2 separate regions of the Homo sapiens genome follow, and region 1 is linked to region 2. The links come from fine-mapping of genetic effects on gene expression. A gene starts in region 2. The other region holds a variant in brackets. All regions are shown on one strand. Distances are from middle to middle.

Region 1 (9,147 bases), 45 kb before region 2:
GGCGAATTTTGTCAACATGGTAAAGAACACCTACTGAAAACCTACAGCTAATATCATAATTAATAGTGAGAAAAGAAGCCAAAGATGTCCCCTCTCATCACTCTTTTAAACATTGTACTGGAATGCCTAGTTAATGCAATAAGATAAGAAAAGGATATACGAAGTTTACAGATTGGGAAGGAATAAATAAAGCTTTGTTTGCAGACGTCATGATCATCTATGTAGAACTCTAAAAGTATCATCAACAACAACAACAAATGTCCTGGAATTAATAAGCAATTATAGCAAAGTTGCAGGATACAAGGTTAATAAACAAAAGTCAATAGCTTTCCTATATACCAGCAATGAACAAGTAAAATTTGAAATTAAAAATGCAATACCACTTACGTTAGCACCTCCCAAAAATGTAATACTTAGGCATGCATTTACCAAAACCTATATGAGGAAAACTATATAACTCTGATGAAAGAAATAAATACAGAGCTAAATAAATGGAGAAATATTCCATGCTTGTGGATAGGAAGACTCAATATTGTCAAATATTAGTTCTTCCAAATCTGATGTATAAATTCAACACAATTCCAATAACAATTCTGGCAAGTTATTTTGTGGATAGCAAAAAACTGATTCCTGGGCCAGGCATGGTGGCTCATGCCTATAATCCCAGCACTCTGTGAGGCCAAGGCAGGAGGATCGCTTGAGCCCAGGAGTTTGAGACCACCCTGGGCAACATAGTGAGACCTTGTCTCTATAAATAATAAAAAAAATTAGCCAGGCATGGTGATGTACACCTGTGGTCCCAGCTGCTCAGGAGGCTGAGGCAGGAGGATCAGTTGAGTCTGGGAGGTCAATGCTGCAATGAGCTATGATCACATGCCACTGCACTCCAACTTGGACAACATAGTGAGATCTTGTCTCAAAAACAACAAACAAACAAACAAACAAACAAAAAACCTGATTCTAAAGTTTATGTGGAGAGCCTAAAGACCCAGAATAGCCAAAAAAAAAAAAATGGAAAGAAAAGAACAAAGTTGGAAGGCTACTATAAAGCTACAGTAATCAAGATGGTGTGGTGTTAGTAAAAGAATAGAAAAATAGATCAATGGAACAGAATAGAGGGCCCAGACTCATACAAATAGAGCCAACTGATATCTGACAAAGGAACAAAAGCAATACCATGGAGAAAAGACAGCCTTTCTGACAGAAGGTGCCAAAACAACTGAACATTCATATGCAAAAAAAGACTAGATAAAGCCTCTTATCCCTCTCACAAAAATTCATTCAAAATAGATCATAGACCTAAATGTAAGTTGTAAACTATAAAATTCCTAGAAGATTGGCCAGGTGCAGTGACTCACACGTGTAATCCTAGCACTTTGGGAGGCCAAGGTGGGAGGATTGCTTGAGGTCAGGAGTTCGAGACCAGCCTGGCCAACATGGTGAAACCCCGTCTCTACTAAAAATACAAAACTTAGCCAGGTGTGGTAGCAGGCGCCTGTAATCCCAGCTACTCAGGAGGCTGAGGCAGGAGGGTCGCCTCACTTGAACTCAGGAGGCGGAGGTTGCAGTGAGCTGAGATTGCCCCACTGCACTCCATCCTGGGGGACAGAGAGAGACTCCATCTCAAAAATAAAATAAAATAAAATAAAATCCCTAGAAGATAACACAGGAGAAAGTATGGATGGTCTGGATATGGCAATGATTTTTTAGACACTATGCCAAAGGCATGATCCACGAAAAAAAAAATTGATGAGCTGGACTTTATTAAAAACTTCCGTTCTGCAAAATACACTGTCAGGAGAGTGAGGAGACAAGCCACAGACTGGGAGAAAATATTTGCAAAGGACGTATCTAATAAAGGACTGTTATCCAAAATATACAAAGAATTCTTAAAACCCAACAATAAGAAAAGAAACAACCCAATTAAACAATGAGCAAAAGACCTCAACTGACATCTCACCAAAGAAGATATGCAGTTGGCAAGTATGCATATGGACATATGCTCAACATCATATGTCACTGGGGAACTGCAAATTAAAATGGCAATGAGATACCAGTACACACCTATTAGAACCGGCAAAATCCCAAACACTGACAACGCTATGTGTTGGTGAGGAGGCGGAGCCACAGAAACTCTCATTCACTGCTGGTGGGAATACTCAATGAAACAGCTTCTTTGGAAGAAGATAGTGGTTTCATGCAAAACTAAATATATTCTTATTACATGATCCAGAATCATTGGGTAAATCCATTGATGTTTACCCAAAGGCATTAAAAACTTGCATCCACACAGAAACCTACATACAGATATTTACAGCAGCTTTATTCCGAGTTGCCCAAACTTGGAAGCAACTCAGATGTTCTTCAGGAGGGGAAGGGATGAACAGTGGTATATCCAGACAATGGAATATTATTCAGTGCTAAAAGGAGATGAGCTATCAAGCCATGAAAAGATATGAAGGACATAAATGCATATTACTAAGTGAAAGAAGCTAGTCTGAAGAGGCGACCTACTGTATGATCCCACTTAAGTGACATTCTGGGAAAGGTAAAACTGTGGAGAGAGTGAAAATATCAGTGATTGCCAGGAGTTGTGGGGAGGGAAGGATGAACAGGCAGAGCACAGGGGTGGTTTAGGGCAGTGAGACTGTTCTGTGTGCTGTAACCCTGGATATGTGCCATTGTACATTTGTCAAAACCCATAGCATGTGGAATAACGAGAGGGAATCCTAACGTCAGCATGGGCTTTGGGTTTGTGGTGTATCACTTTGGATGATGGTGTATCACTGTAGGTTCATCAGTTGTAACAAAAGGACGGCTCTGGTGAGGAATGTTGGTAGTGGGGAGGCTGCGGTGTTGGGGGGCATGGATTATATGGGAAATCTCTGCACTTTCTGCTCAGTTTTGCTGTGAACCTAAAACTACCCTAAAAAATACTCTAGTAAAAAAAATAAATAAATAGAGACCCAGCATGGTGGCTCACACCTGTAATCTCAGTGCTTCAGGAGGTCAAGGAGGGAAGATCATTTGAGGCTAGGAGTTTGAGGCCTGGGCAATATAGCAAGACCCTGTCTCTACAAAAAATAAAAATACAGAAACTTAGCTGAGTATGATGGTGTGAGCCTGTAGTTCTAGCTACCTGGGAGCATTGCTTGAAGCCAGGAGTTTGAGGCTGCAGTGAGCTATGATCGCACCACAGCACTACAGCATAGGCAACAGAGTGAGACTCTGCCTCTATTAAAATATATATATTTCTAGGGAATCATCATTAAAAAGGTTGTCACTGCAGACTCTGTCTTCATAATTCGGTAATAATGTTTCTATAGTCCATCTATTTCCAACAAACATATGAAATGGTTTACAGTAAAAGATGTATGTAATAGTACAAATAAAAAGCATGTTTAAAAAAGTAAAGCTTTATGGAAAAAAGAGAGGGACAGTTAATCCTAAACCTGGGCTAATGTGATTTCTGGTATTGAATAGATTTACTTTTGAATTTCCTGAAAGTCAAGGCAAAATTTAAAATATCAAACATTAAAGTTTTTATTAAAGTTTGTTGTTGAAAAACAAACCAGCTACCATTTTTAGGAGGCTCAAACTTTTTCCTGATAGTCATTTTTAAATATATGAAGAGAACATCCATGCAATGACAGTCTTCAATTCCAGTTTTATCGGTGGCTGGGGCCGGGCAGTGCTCCCTGTGGCTCTCCAGTCTCTGCCGGGGGCCGGGGGTTGGGAGCAGGATGGAGGCAGGGCTGGGGGAAGATGCCTCACGGTGATCCCTCCTGTCGTGCTTCCTCCCTCCTCTGAGGCTAAGGACTCCTGGGGAGAGAGTGCAGCACGGAGACCGCACAGCCGGCCCCATGCACAAAGCTGTGCCCGGTGCCTTCCTAAAGAGCGCGCCGCCTGCAGAACGGGAGGCCTCCTCCCTGCTTCGTCTTCTGCGCCCCCTCCTGCTCTCTGGATCCTCTGGCTGCTCTGATCATTTTATCTTGGATGAGGGTTCAACCTTTGAATTCCCTAAGACAGTATTTTAACTGACTCCTTACGATAACTTGTTTATTATGGTTTGAAACCGCGCCCACACTGAAAGGGGACCAGTGCTGGCAGAACTTCAGGTACTGGTGAGAGGTTTGTAAAGGGATAGGAGCATCCAAGCCGAGATGAAAAATACACCAAGCCTTCTGCTGACCTTCCGCCGCCAACAGCACCTTCTCTCCTAAGGATGCTCCCTGGCCGCCAGACTTTCTGTGCAGTGCGCAGCCTGTGTTCACTGACAGGAAAGAGCGATTTCAGCGCGTGTCATTCTAAACAATGATTTCTTCTCCGTGTCTATGAAAAAACAAGGTTTTTTTTTCTTTCGGATAAACAAAACAAAAACCCAAAACCAACAGATAATCTAACCTTAATCACAAAGGTGGTCCGAGTTATTTAGTAGGTACAGAGTAGAAAGATATGGTTAAGGCTGGGCGCGGTGGCTCACGCCTGTAATCCCAGCTCTTTGGGAGGCCCAGGGGGGCGGATCACCTGAGATCAGGAGTTCAAGACCAGCCTGGCCAACATGGTGAAACCCCACCTCTACTAAAAATACAAAAATTAGCCGGGCGTGGTGGTGCGCGCCTGTAATCTCAGCTACTCAGGAGGCTGAGGCAGGAGAATCACTTGAACCCAGAAGGCGGAGGTTGCAGTGAGCCGAGATCGCGCCATTGCACTTCAGCCTGGGCAACAGAGTGAGACTCCGTCT[CAA/C]AAAAAAAAAAAAAAAAAAAAAGATATGGTTAAATTTGCACAGCTACACTCTCAAATAAGAACATGATATGTTAATTTGTATATCGTTTTAAAATAGCACTGGCTCTCCGCCAAACACATAAGAGATGGGATTTTCTAGCTTTGTAGTCATCTTCTGTACTGTCTCTGGTCAGCATAGTGGCTTTATGCACGTCTGTATCTCGGCTTTCACTTCTCAGACGGGATTCCCTGCAAGTGGCACCTACTCAGTGAATTCTTCTCTGCCGGAAGACCCTGCAGGGCTCGTGCCTGCCCAGGTTGGCTCTTCCCTCACCTCCAGGCGTTAGCTCAGTACACCTGGCCACAGTCAGAGCATCCTTGGCCAGCGCAGGCTCCTGTGCAAAGTGGGGGGCCTGTATCCCCAGCCCCACACTGAGTTCCCTGCTCACACTTCCTCTGGGCTCCGCGGGTGGGCCACACCTGGTTCAGGATCTCCCTAGGCAGCCGTTGCCTCAGGAGAATGCTGGAGGACATTGTTCCCTTTTCCTCCCTCCACTCGGTGCCCCAGGGCTGTGCTGAGGCGCCCGAACCCTTAAGGTGTGGCTGGTGCCAACTGAGACCTGCTGTGAGTACAAGACACCCTGCATTTCAAATATTGGGTACACATAAAGGAATGTGAAATCTCAATCATTTTCATTCTGATTACACATTGAAACGATAGTATTTTGGATACATTGGGATAAATAAAAGATTATTAAAACTAATTTTACCTGCTCCTTTTCAAAGTTTTACATGTAGCTACTAGAAACTTTAACAGTACTCATGTGGCTGGCAGATCTTGCTGTTGGCAGTGTTGCCGAGAGGGACAGCAGGATGGAGGCAGCCCCCCCAGAGGCAGCTCCCAAAGTCCCCATTTCCAGGTCACCTTCCAGCTCCCAAGGGTGAAGGAGGCCAGGTGGCTCCCCCAGCAGTGCGCCTCCCTGTTCGCCGCGATGCTGACAGGACTGAAAGCACACACAGCAAGTGGGGTGTACGGCTGGCTGAGGGTTCCACGTCTCACAATGCATGTCTTTACCTCTGGTTTTCTGCCACAGACTCTGGATCCCAGGGGTCCAAAGGGAATTGCAAAGGGGAAGAATTCAGTCTTCCTTTTCTCCTCTGTGGCTTCCTGTGGCTGTGTTTGCAACTAGACTGTTCCAGACAGCTCCACAAAAGACAGCTTCCTCCCTGGTTGCTTGCTCACTTATGTGCCCAGTGCCTGGGCCCGGCAGCCACACTTCTGTCTCTGCTGCATTTGTACTTGAGTTTCCTGAACACCCTCTAAGTGGCCAACACTAGTAATGAATGCAGAAACATGAAAGAATATTCTCTCAATACATTTCAGGGTGGGTACTCATCAGATGAACACATTTTCAGTTACTAAGTTAATGACAACAATTGAAGACATTGGAAATTTTTATTCATCTTTGCTTTACAACAGAACCAAAAGCGTCAACTTAAGAATTCATTTTACCTGCTGGTTTCCACAAGCTAGTTATGTGAACCATGTTTTACAAACAATAATAATATTACAACAATAATTATGGAGAAGTTAATTGGATAATAGAGCTTTTCCACAATTCAAGTAGAAACACAGAAGAAACTGGATAATTTTAAGTCCTCTAACTCAAGACATGCTGGTGCAAGCCTGGCCTGCGAGGCCCCATTGCCTGCGTCTCCCGGGGGCCTTAGGAAAGACTGACAGTTCGCGTGCCTCTGGGGAAATATCTACGCTACAGAAAATCTTTAGGTGTTCAGTAGTTCTCTAGAGATTTTAAGTGGTATCACAACAGCCCATCCGGAGAACTTATTTCTAAATAATTTGAAAAACAAACAAGAAACCATTAGGGTTTTCATGCAGAGCAGCCTCCAGAGCAACATTCTCTGAGAGGAAGAGTCGACCAGAGTGAGCTCTCCGCAGGGCCTGCTCTGCCCTCCCCTGCCCCGCTCTGCCCTTCGCAGGGCCTGCTGTGCCCTCCCCTGCCCTGCTCTGCCCTCCGCCGCCCTGCAGACACTCTCCCAGGACTATGGGAACCCAAGCTCTCTCCTCTGGGCCAGACAAACAATGCTCAGGCCATGCACCTCCTCAGAAAAGGGGGCATGGGTTGCCACATCTTCAGAGAGCTCTGAGTAAACTCCCTGGGCCCAGGGATGCAGGGGAGCCTGGTTGTTGCTGCAGAGCCAGCCTCATGTTCCCCTAAACATCCTTTCTAAACTAGAGATTTCTAGACTAAGACAAAATCAACATGCATTCACACTTTATACTCTACTCCATTTTCAATCCCTTAGATTTAAACTCAGTGTGGAGAATCTGTGATAAGCACCTTCCAAATTCCTCCAGGATCATCTGCTCTGCCAGGCACTTGGAGCAGTGTTCTTTCTCGGCCTCTTCTCCCTGAGCAAGCAGGCAGGCGCATGTGGCCTCCACCACCTCCCAGGAGATGCATGAGGAAGGCCGCCTGTCAGAAACAGAGCAGTTAAAGGCCGCTCAACAGTGCACCATTTCTACCTACAGTACTATTTATATTCAACAGAACATTGCTTGTCCATGCTATTTTAAAGAACATCATCCACTAAAATCTAACGTTGTCTTCCTCATACTGGAAACTATTAGGCTGGGCACAGTGGTCTGTAATCCCAGCACCTTGGGAGGCCAAGGCAGGAGGATGGTCTGAAGCCAGGAGTTTGAGACCAGCCTGGGCAACAAAGTGAGACCCTTTTTTTTTTTTTGATACTGAGTCCTGCTCTGTTGCCAGGCTGGAGTGCAATGGCACGATCTCGGCTCACTGCAACCTCCAACTCCCTGGTTCAAGTGATTCTCCTGCCTCAGCCTCCTGAGTAGCTGGGATCACAGGCATGCACCACCACACCTGGCTAATTTTTGTATTTTTAGTAGAGACAGGGTTTTGCCATGTTGGCCAGGATGGTCTCGATCTCCTGACCTCATGATCTGCCCTCCTCGGCCTCTCAAAGTGTTAGGATTACAGGCGTGAGCCACCACACCCGGCGGAGACCCTGTCTTAAAAAAAAAAAAAAAGAAAGAAAAGAAAAGAAAGAAAGGATTAACTGGTTTTAGAAGAATAACACAGAGGACAAGTAAATCTGTCCGTTTTTGACATGCCTCTCATGGCGGGTTTGAAATTTCCTCAAAATTAGATTCACTGACGAACCCAGAGGATCCCGGGCTACAGTGTCAAGCACGTGGGCCAGGCAGGAAATTGCAGAAGCAGGACTCTTGGCTGAGGCAGGGCACGGGGACAAGCCGAGCAGCTTTGCTCTGAGTCCTGTCCACGCTGGGTGTCTGCCTGTCCTCCCCGCAGGCCCACGTGCAGCCAGAGAAGGCCAAGGTTCTGAGGACTCGCCTGTCAAACCTTGGGGTCCTGCTGTCAGGACAGCCTTCCCCATCAATGCCGCTTGGAGCTGTGAAAGAGGTTCTGGAAGACAAGTTGAACCGCATCACATAGCGCCAGCTATTCTCCCCACTGAGCTCAGGGGGCAACTGTGGCTTAGCTAGATAGCAACCCAGGTGGCGCTAAGTCGAAAAATTTTCAGGAAAGCTTTATAAAACATTAAAAAGTGTTGGATTATAAAAATAAAGCAAAATGTTGGATTAAAGTCTCTCTATAAAGACAATACACGATGACTTTGGTTGAAGAAGAAAAGATAGGGCTGCCCTTGGGAAAAGAAGGGCTGCTAACACTGCAAGACGAGGCTCCAATGTACAGGCCCCCACCGGACTCCACAGAACACACATCCTGCTGCAGGCGATGACATTTTCACACATCACTTCACAGACAATGCAGCCAGGTTTTGGTAAATTTTTACTGATAAAGACCTCTGTGGGTCAGCTGGGTGCGGTGGCTTACGCCTGTAATCTCAGCAGTTTGGGACTCAGAGGTGGATGAATCACAGTTCAGGAGTTCGAGACCAATATGGCGAGACCCCATCTCTACAAAAAGTAGAAAAATCAGCCGGATGTGGTGGTGCGTGCCTGTAGTCCCAGCTACTCAGGAGGCTGAGGTGGGAGGATCACCTGAACCTGGGGAGGTTGAGGCTGCGTGAGCTGTGATCGCACCACTGCACTCCAGCCTGAGCAACTGAGTGAAAGCCCTGGTCTCAAAAAAAAGACCCCTGTAGGTCACAATCATGAGTATTTCTGATATCTCTCTAACCAAATAAGCATGAATTTGGCTTTGCAAAATATTAATTAATGACATCTGGTAGTTTATCATGATATGACCATTACATTGAACTCGAAGTTTTTTTTAAACAAATGAATGGAATCTAATAGATAGTAAAACTATGACTCAACTTTGAGAACTACTAGGATTACAATGTGGCTTCAAAACTGATAAATGCAAAATTATCCAACTAATCCGGATC
Region 2 (9,147 bases):
TTCTTACCCATAAAGTGGGGATAAAAAGAATGCCTATCCTACAGAGTTGTTAGGAGGATTAAATAAAGGTGCAAAAATATGACATAAACCACAGCTGTGACTGATTACGTACCCTATACAAGCGTTACCTGTTATCATGAGAGATTGGGACACGAAGGAAGCAGGCTCTGCCCTGAAGCCACAGGACCGTGCCCCACACCAATATGCCAAACCATGAGGCTCAGCTGCAGTCCCTGACCCCAGCACTGCACTAACTGATGTGATTTGTGCTTGCTCTCCTTAATGAATACAGCAATGTCCTCATCTTTGTTCAATTTGCTAAGATGGAGTAGAAATGAGAATCTTAGAGGTGAGATGTGAAAGGCTCATGTCCCTGTTTTGCTAATGAGACAACCAAAAATCCTGATACAATACATACGTGAAATGAAAAACGAGTGAAATGATCAGTCGACTTAGTAATGATGGGGTCCAGCATTTAGTATAATGTTAGTCCTACACATCTTCTTTAGCATAATTACCATTGGGTTGGAATCTTTCTTAAGAGAACAGCAGGAGGCATCCTCTAGTTCCTGGGACGATGGGAACTTGCAACAGGATTCCTGAGCAAGAAGATTCTGCAAAGTTGCTTCTTCCGGATTATTACTTGTAGTAGTACCACCTGCTTCCTTGATTTCAACCTAGAAAAAAGCAATAATTATTTTAGAGAACACATGGTGGACACTGGCTCTTGCAGTTGCATAATTTAGAAAATTGAAATCTCAGTGATAAGTAGAAGTTATGGTGAAACCCTGTCTCTACTAGGCATGGTGGCACACTCCCAGCTACCGGAGAGGTTGAGGCAGGAGAACTGCTTGAACCTGGGAGGCGGAGGTTGCTGTGAGCTGAGACAGTGCCATTGCATTCCAGCCCAGCCCCATCACACATTCTTCCAGCATGCTCAGTAGTTTGAATTAGATGTTCTAGTCAATTGTTTTTTCCTCAAAAAGCCCCAAATCCTTGGTAACGTTTTAATATTATTTATGATGTGTTTATAGGAAGATTTGTAATTAGGTAGTAGCCCTTTCCTGCCTTAATAGTAGGACAACAAACATGAAATGGTGGAGAGTAGGGAGTGGCTGCCAGCTTTGTGTTCAAGCTGTCTTCTGTAACAACTGTCAACCCGATGACAAAATTACCAAAGATATGGAGAAATACAGGGATAATACTGAAAATCAATAGAATTTTTAAAAGTAAGAATCCTCGTGGTTAAAAAAAAATTACAATCAGGATTGTTTCAACATTGGGATGCTGCTTTTTACAATCTGTAGGAATGTGAGGAGGACTGGGAAACCCACGCTTTGCATCCTCCCCTCCCCTCCTCCTCCACCTACACTTGCCCGAGCTGCCTGGACCAGAGGACAGTGGGGCTCCCCAAAGGCCAGGAGGCAGGCCACAGAGCCCTTCCAAAAAGATGGTGGCTCTAAGGTAACATACTGAAGACCTCAAATAAAAATCACAGAGCAGGTATCTTTCAAAATGCAGATAGTGACTCAAATTGGAGCTTGTCCAGCCCAATAAAATCAGAGGCCCAAACAAATCATATTTCCCATGTATGGGCAAATCACTCAGCACAGCAGACTAGCATCTAGGTATAAATCTTAAAAGAGATAAAGTTTAGCTATATTTTAAGTAGCTTTATTTAGAAATTTTAAATTTCATATAAATACACATAAAATTTTCTTCTACTTGCTGCTTTGGGGGATGTGCTATGCACGTCATCCCAGTTTAGATTTAACTTATCTCCCTGTAATCAACAAATACTACTATAATAAATATATCATTTCCTCAGACCTATGCAACTAATATCTGAACTACTTATACTAAAATTCCATTTCTGACCTTTCAAAACAAAGGTCAACATGTGGGAATGAATTTCTAGAAGAAGGAAATTAGCAACTGATCCTGAATATTTACTGAAAATAATTCCATTCTGTTTAAACGATAAACATGTCTGTGCTGTATCTGGTCCATTTTATTAATGAATCAGAAAGCAGTCAATAAAAATTTAAAAAGCAAAGTCTCTCCTTTAGTTTGTCAGACCAGCAATCTCTTAAAATTGGATTAAAGAGAATTTTACTATCTTTAACATCAGAGAATTCTCTTGTGTGTGTTTTGTTTGTTTTTTAAGACAGGGTCTCACTCTGTCGCTCAGGCTGGAGTGCAGTGGTGCAATCTCGGCTCACTGCAGCCTTCGCCTCCCAGGTTCAAGCAATTCTCCTGCCTCAGCCTCCCGAGTAGCTGGGATTACAGGTGTGCGCCACCACACCCGGTTAATTTTTGTATTATCTTCCCTGTTCTGATTAATGCTTTCTGACTCCACTCTGTGAGGAAATGAGCCGAGCTAGGACCTACGGGCAGGAGGCGCTGGACACCAATCCGGCTGGGCAGCAAAATGCAGTTCTTAACATTTCAAGCCCTCTGAGAAAGGCTGTGAGAAAGACCTCTGTCCTGGGAAACGGCTGGGGGAACTGGTGAGCTCTATGGCTCCTCTGAGGACAAACAGAGGTCAGTGGAGGCCCCAGCCTCTGCCCATCCTTTTCCTGTACACTAAGGACTGGCAATTACCATAACAGAAAACCGGAAGAGCAGAAATCCAAGCTCCTGCTGCTCTGGCTTATGATACAGGGTCAGGCTCCAGCCATCTCAATACTGACTCAAGCATTGTGTCCCACAAACGCTTCATCTACAACTTACTAAAATGACCTCATGGATGAGTGGTCTCGTTTTCTGAGCTGGGTCCTTTTTGAGGGGTCGAGAACACATTTTCCTGGGACCCTTTGTTTCCTTTGAAAACTCATTAGTTTTGGCAAGAACAAAGCGGAAAATTATCAGCGGTCATCTACAGCTAGAGAGGGCAGTCGGCTGAGAGCTGGCAAGCATTTCTTTAGGCTCTGATTTACATTGCATATGCTTGAAGAGCTATTACTCATTAGCAAAGGGAAGATCTCACATCTTGACTTCAAGGCCCGGAAAATCCAAGTATTAACTCTGAGTCCTTGCTGTGGATTCCAAGCCTGGTAAAGTTAAAGGAAAAAAAAAATGCAAGATGCAAACACGCCAACCCTCCACCACATTGCGTTTGTTTTCACAGACAATAGTTACCAGCAGACAGCGGGCCTCTCTCCTTAAGCCAAGGATAGCAACAGGGCCCAAGGGAACCTACGTCCTAGCTTTCCCCCTTTTTTTGTTGTCCGCCGTCTGCATGGTTAGGTCAGCTTTGGACGACTGGTGCAGGGCAGAATTCCCTCCAGGGGAAAGGGCTTGGCTGGGCCGATGCATGTTGGATTAGGAAGACGACAAAGAGTATACGCTCTACCGAGAATCAGTGACTCCGGTGGGCTGTGTGTGGTGTCACCAGGGAAAATGCTTGTAGAGGGAAATCCTGGGGTACACTAGCAGCCTCAGATGGGTTGGGGAAGGGATGGAGGGGGAGCTGTGCCCATTCCCCAGGCGGTTCTTACTGGGATCATGCGGACGCCCGGGTGGGAGGCTCCTTCCAGGACCCAGGCGCCCAGGGGCAACACCGCCGGGCTGCGGTGCGCGGGTAGCAGCGAGGACAGGAAGTGCACGTTGCAGGCGGGCGGCTGCGGGGCCTGCAGGAGCGCGACGTCCTCCAGCGCGCTGAGCTCTGGGATCCCGGGGTACTCCCCGAGGAGCTCCCCGCCGTCGCTGTCGCCCCCCGCGAGCTTCGCCTTGACCTGGCCCTTGCAGTCGGCGCCCAGCGCGGGGTTGAACGCGTGCAGGACGGGTTCCTTGGGGTCCGCCGGGCCCAGGTACGCTTCTTTGAAGACGTGGAACTCGTCCTCCTCGTACTTCACGGGGGCCTTCAGGCCGATGTTCTCCGAAGCGAACGGACCCTCGGGGCTTAAGAGCTCCGTCACCATCGCATCCTCGGGGCTGGGCAGCCCGCCCGGCAGAGGGCCCTCCTCCATGGCGCAGGGCGGCGGGGCGGGATGGCGGGGGCCGCGCACCTGCAACACGCGGCCAGGTGAGAGGCAGCCAGAGGAGAGGACGAGGGGAGGGGCGGCCAGGAAAGGGGACAGCCAAGGGAGGGGCAGCCAAGGGAGGGGCGGCCAGGGGAGGGGACCAGGTGAGGGGCGGCTAGGGGAGGGGGCGGCCTGGTGAGGGAGGGCCAGGTGAGGGGCCCGGGGAAGGGCGACCAGGTGAGGGGGTCAGGGGAGGGGCGACCAGATGAGGGGCGATTAGGTGAGGGGCGGCCAGGTGAGGGGCGGCCAGGTGAGGAGCGACCAGGGGAGGCGGTCAGGTGAGCGGCGACCAGGGGAGGGGCGGCCGGGGAGGGGGTCACGGGAGGGGCGACCAGGGGAGGGGCGGCCAGGGGAGGGGGCCAGGTGAGGGGCGGCCAGGTGAGGAGCGACCAGGGGAGGGAGTCAGGGGAGGGGCGACCAGGTAAGGGGCGGCCAGGAGAGGGGCCGGCCGGGGTGGGGGTCAGGTGAGGGGCGCCCAGGGGAGGGGGCCAGGTGAGGGGCGGCCGAGGAGGGGGTCAGGTGAGGAGCAGCCAGGGGAGGGGGGGCCAGGTGAGGTGCGACCAGGTGAGGGGCGGCCTCGCCCACGGCCCGCCGCCCTCCGCCCACCCGCAGGGGCCCGACCCGGCCCGGCAGCCCCCATCCCCGCCTGCAGAGCCGAGGCCCAGCCCGGGGACCGCCCCGTCATTCCTCCTCGGAGGGACGCACCTGGGGCCGCCGGGGCTGCCGCAGCGTGGAGCGAGCGGGATGGGGCGTGGGCCGGGCCTCAGGCGCAGGCGGCCGTTGGCGGTTGGAGAAGGGGGAAGGGTGAGGGACAGGAACCTGGGGGGAGGGGAAGAGGCGCCCGGGCAGTGGGCGGGGCCTGGGCGTGGGGCGGAGTCGAGGTCGGGGCGGGGAGGTAAAGGCGGGGCCAGGGAGGTGTGGTGGGCGTGGTCTGGGGCGGGAGGAGACAGAGTCGCGAGGGGCGGGGCCTGGACTGCCGCTGTTGCCAGAGCGGGTCAGGGGAGGCACTCCCAGGTTCAGCCGATCCAGGCTCAGGTGGGGAAACTGAGGTCCCCATCAACTCGGGCAGCGCTAAGTGGGACTGCCTAGCTTGGCTTCTGACCTTGGGCTTCAGTTATATTTTTCTGGCCAGGCGTGGTTGCTCACGCCTGTAGTCCCAGCACTTTGGGAGGCCGAGGCAGGCGGATTACTTGAGGTCAGGAGTTCAAAACCAGCCTGGGCAACATGGTGAAACCCCGTCTCTACTAAAAATACAAAAATTAGCTGGCCGTGGTGGCACGCGCCTGTAATCCCAGCTACTTGGAAGGCTGAGGCAGGAGAATCGCTTGAGCCCGGGAGGTGGAGGTTGCAGTGAGCCGAGATCCCGCCACTGCACTCCAGCCTGTGCCACAGAGCTAGACTCCGTCTCAAAAAAATAAATAAAATAAAATAAAACATTTTTCTACACTCGAGCTCTCAAGACAGATCCCGGCCTGGGACGCTGCGGGTGGACAGAGGGCAGGGGCTTGCACCGCACGTTCCCAGCCTTGCACCCACTCCCGGTCCTTGGTGACGCAGCTTACAGGTGCAACTGATGGAGTTGGTCCCGAAATAGAAGTAACAAATACGGCTGGGCGTGGTGGCTCACGTCTGTAATCCCAGCACTTTGGGAGGCCGAGGCGGGTGGATCACCTGAGGTCAGGAGTTCGAGACCAGCCTGGCCAACATATAGTGAAACTCCGTCTCTACTAAAAAATACAAAAACTAGCTGGGCGTAGTGGCGCACGCCTGTAGTCCCAGCTACATAGAAGGCTGAGGCTTGAACCTGGGAGATGGGGGTTGCAGTGAGCTGAGATTGTGTCACTGTACTCCAGCCTGACCAACAGAGAAAGGCTCCCTCTCAGAAAAAAAAAAAAAAACTCACAAATACAATGAAAGTCTCAAATTTTGGGTGGGGAATGAGCTATTTCATCTTTAAGGAGTCAATAGATATCACTGTTTAATCAAGAGGAGGTGAAAGTTTAATTCAAGTGATGGCGAAAACTGCAAAGGGTGTAGAGGGACTGGTGGGAGTGGGTGCTGGGGAGACAGCCTCAGGTACTGTCTACTCAGGTACTGTTTTGGTAAAAATAAAGAATGTAAAACATCAGCTTTCTAATCTCACTTTTAAAAATTAAATACTTTTCTAAATTTTTAAAGGGTAGTACCCAAGGCACAGCAACACCGTGTACTATTTAGTTGTACATTTAACATTCAAAAATCAAGAAAATTTTGCCTGGGGCTGGGCGTGGTGGCTCATGCCTGTAATCCCAGCACTCTGGGAGGCCAAGGTGGTCAGATCACTTAAAGTCAGGAGTTCAAGACCAGCCTGACTAACATGGTGAAACCCTGTCTCTACTAAAAATACAAAATTAGCTAGGCATGGTGGTGCACACCTGCAATCCCAGCTATTTGTGAGGCTGAGGCAGGAGAATTGCTTGAACCTGGGAGGCGGAGGTTGCAGTGAGCTGAGATTGCACCATTGTACTTTAGCCTGGGCAAAAAGATTGAAACTCCATCTCAAAAATCAAACAAACAAAAACAACAACAACAAAAAACACTCACAGAAGCAGAAAAAATAATAAAAATAATAAATCGAAGAGCCCAAGAATTATGCATAGCTTGAGTGGCCCAAGCGAGAGAGTAACCCACAAGGTTGCACCGTTCATTCGTTTACTAATCAGAATCAGACGTCTACTGAGTAGCATCATGCCAGGCATACACAGCCACCTGTGGGGGTCACCCACGGGTTGCAATCAAGCCTGGAGGCTCTGCACCTGCTGCTCCTAGATGCTTGCTGCCCTGCTGCACTGGCCGGGCTGGCTCCGTCGAGTCTCTCAGGTCTCAGCTCAACCCACTCTAAGTGGGTCAACCTCCCTGCCAGCTACCACCCCCTCCCAATGATCCTCTTAGTTGCCTCAGAACACTTAAAATCCTTCAACTGGTTGGCTTGTTCTCTTTTTCCTCTGTGATATGGTTTGGCTCTGTGTCCCCACCCAAATCTCATCTTGAATTGTAATCCCTCTGTGTCAAGGGAGGGGCCTGGTGGGAGGTGATTGGATCAAGGAGGCGGTTCCCCTACGCTGTTCTTGCAATAAGAAGTGAGTTCTCACAAGATCTGATGGCTTAAAAGTGTTCGGCAATTCCCCCTCACTCTCTCTCCTCTGCTGCCATGTAACAGGTTTCTTGCTTCCCCTTCACCTTCTGCCATGATTATAAGTTTCCTGAGGCCTCCCCAGCCATGCTGAACTGTGAGTCAATTGACTGTCTTTCCTTTATACTTACCCAGTCTCAAGAAGTTCTTTACAGCAATGTAAAAATGGACTAATGAGACAGCCAGAACCTGGTGGGGTCACTGCTGTCTCCCCAGTGCCTAGAACAGGCGCTGATATGGTTTGGATGTGTGTCCCCACCCAAATCTCAGGTTCAGTGGTAATCCCTAATGTTGGAGGTGGGGCCTGATGGGAAGTGACTGGATCATGGGCGTGCATTTCTCATGAACAGCACCATCCCTCTTGCTACTGTCCTCACCATAGAGTGCGTGAGTTCCTGTGAGATCTGGTTGTTCGCAAGTGTGTAAGAGAGCACCTCCTCTCTCTCTCTCAGATCTGGTTGTTTGCAAATGTGTAAGAGAGCACCTCCTCTCTTTCTCTCTCTGTCTCCTTTCACCATGTAGAATGCCTGCTCCCCCTTTGCCTTCCACCATGAGTAAAAAGCTGTTTGAGGCCTCCCCAGAAGCAGATGCCTCCATGCTTCCTGTATAGCCTGCAGAACTGAGAGCCAATTAAACCTCTTATAAATTACCCAGTCTCAGCTATTTCTTTACAGCAATGTGAGAATGGCCTAATACAGGTGCTCAAGAAAAACAGAAAAATGGAATTCATGCATTACTTTTAACATATTTATTGAGCATCTTTTATGTGTCAGGCACTGTTCTCAGCATTGAGGCAATGGAATGGATGAATAAATGCACAGCAAGTGAAAATCAACAGGCTTTTCTTTCCAGCCCAGCACATGAACTTGGTGATGTCCATGGTCTCCTCCAAGGCCTTGTTTCCATATGCTGAGACTTTCCACTTTGTCTCAAGTATCTGAACTTGGTCCTTGACTTATAATCCCCTTAATATAACAAAAGAGACAGAAACAAATCTTGTAGTAGACTGGGGTTAATGTTTTATTAATGATAACCTACATTCACACTGCATTTCTAAGATTTACATCCAAAGAGCATACTGTATTTACATGCACCGGTCAGCCCAAGATAACAAATTCAAACCATGGCTGCGTTAAGACAATGGTTTGTTCCAATTAAATTAAACAGATAATACTCTTATCACCCCCCTTGGACATGTACAATAAGACCCCTCTTTCTCCCCTCAAGGAATATAAAATTGCATTGATAACTGCACTGATGAGCAACAATTACATTTGAAACATTTAAAACCTGAGAGAGAAACCCAAATATGTTTAAGCACTCACGTCTACACTCAAAATGCCCTGTGAACTCTAGTGTAACACAGATTGCTCAGTGGTCAACAGTGCATGATCTAGCTGGCTCTGATAGGGACTGACGCCGGCTGCTGGCTTTTAACGGGAAGTGCTATTCTTGCCCAGGGCAGAGAGAGCTACATCCCCGCTGCCTGCTTGACGGACAGTCAGGGGCTTTTGTTGTTGGTTTGTTTTTGCTTTTTTTTTTAGACGGAGTCTCGCTCTGTCGCCCAGGCTGGAGTGCAGTGGAGCGATCTCGGCTCACTGCAAGCTCCGCCTCCCGGGTTCACGCCATTCTCCTGCCTCAGCCTCCTGAGTAGCTGGGACTACAGGCGCCCGCCACCACGCCCGGCTCATTTTTTGAATTTTTAGTAGAGACGGGGTTTCACCGTGTTAGCCAGGATGGTCTCCATCTCCTGACCTCGTGATCCGCCCGCCTTGGCCTCCCAAAGTGCTGGGATTACACGCATGAGCCACCGCGCCTGGACGCTTTTTTTTTTTTTTTTGTCTTTTGTTTTCATTTTTTCTTGCTTTCAGGAGAAAAAAAATCTTTGGCCCATAAAGGTGGGATTTTTACATCATGAAGTATACATACATAAAACATGCATGTGGGCCG

Direction of the effects. Positions count from the first base shown, and alleles are read on the strand shown. Sizes are in standard deviations (SD) of each study's normalised expression.
For the expression in CD4 T cells of the gene that starts at base 4,831 in region 2, allele CAA in region 1 goes with a lower level than allele C (large effect, 0.83 SD a copy in BLUEPRINT).

What was found. PIP is the estimated chance that this variant, and not a neighbour inherited with it, causes the effect. A credible set is the group of variants that fine-mapping cannot tell apart.
Region 1: its variant is the best candidate, but not a certain one, in a credible set for the expression of TESMIN in CD4 T cells (BLUEPRINT, PIP 0.61).

The regions. Positions count from the first base shown.
Region 1 is chr11:68,701,278-68,710,424 of GRCh38, forward strand. TESMIN (testis expressed metallothionein like protein) reads right to left here. Exons shown (of 10, transcript NM_004923.3): 10 at 6,163-7,223. The coding sequence ends at 7,031. Among named protein-coding and RNA genes, the nearest start is that of GAL, 21 kb to the left of the region's middle. RefSeq lists an enhancer at 5,442-6,200. The variant CAA/C (reference allele first, on the strand shown) is at 4,745.
Region 2 is chr11:68,746,690-68,755,836 of GRCh38, forward strand. TESMIN (testis expressed metallothionein like protein) reads right to left here and starts at 4,831. Exons shown (of 10, transcript NM_004923.3): 1 at 4,731-4,831; 2 at 3,501-4,010; 3 at 519-677. The coding sequence starts at 3,971. It overlaps CPT1A (carnitine palmitoyltransferase 1A), which reads right to left. Exons shown (of 19, transcript NM_001876.4): 19 at 8,194-9,147. RefSeq lists an enhancer at 3,958-4,943 and silencers at 4,644-4,933, 4,944-5,063.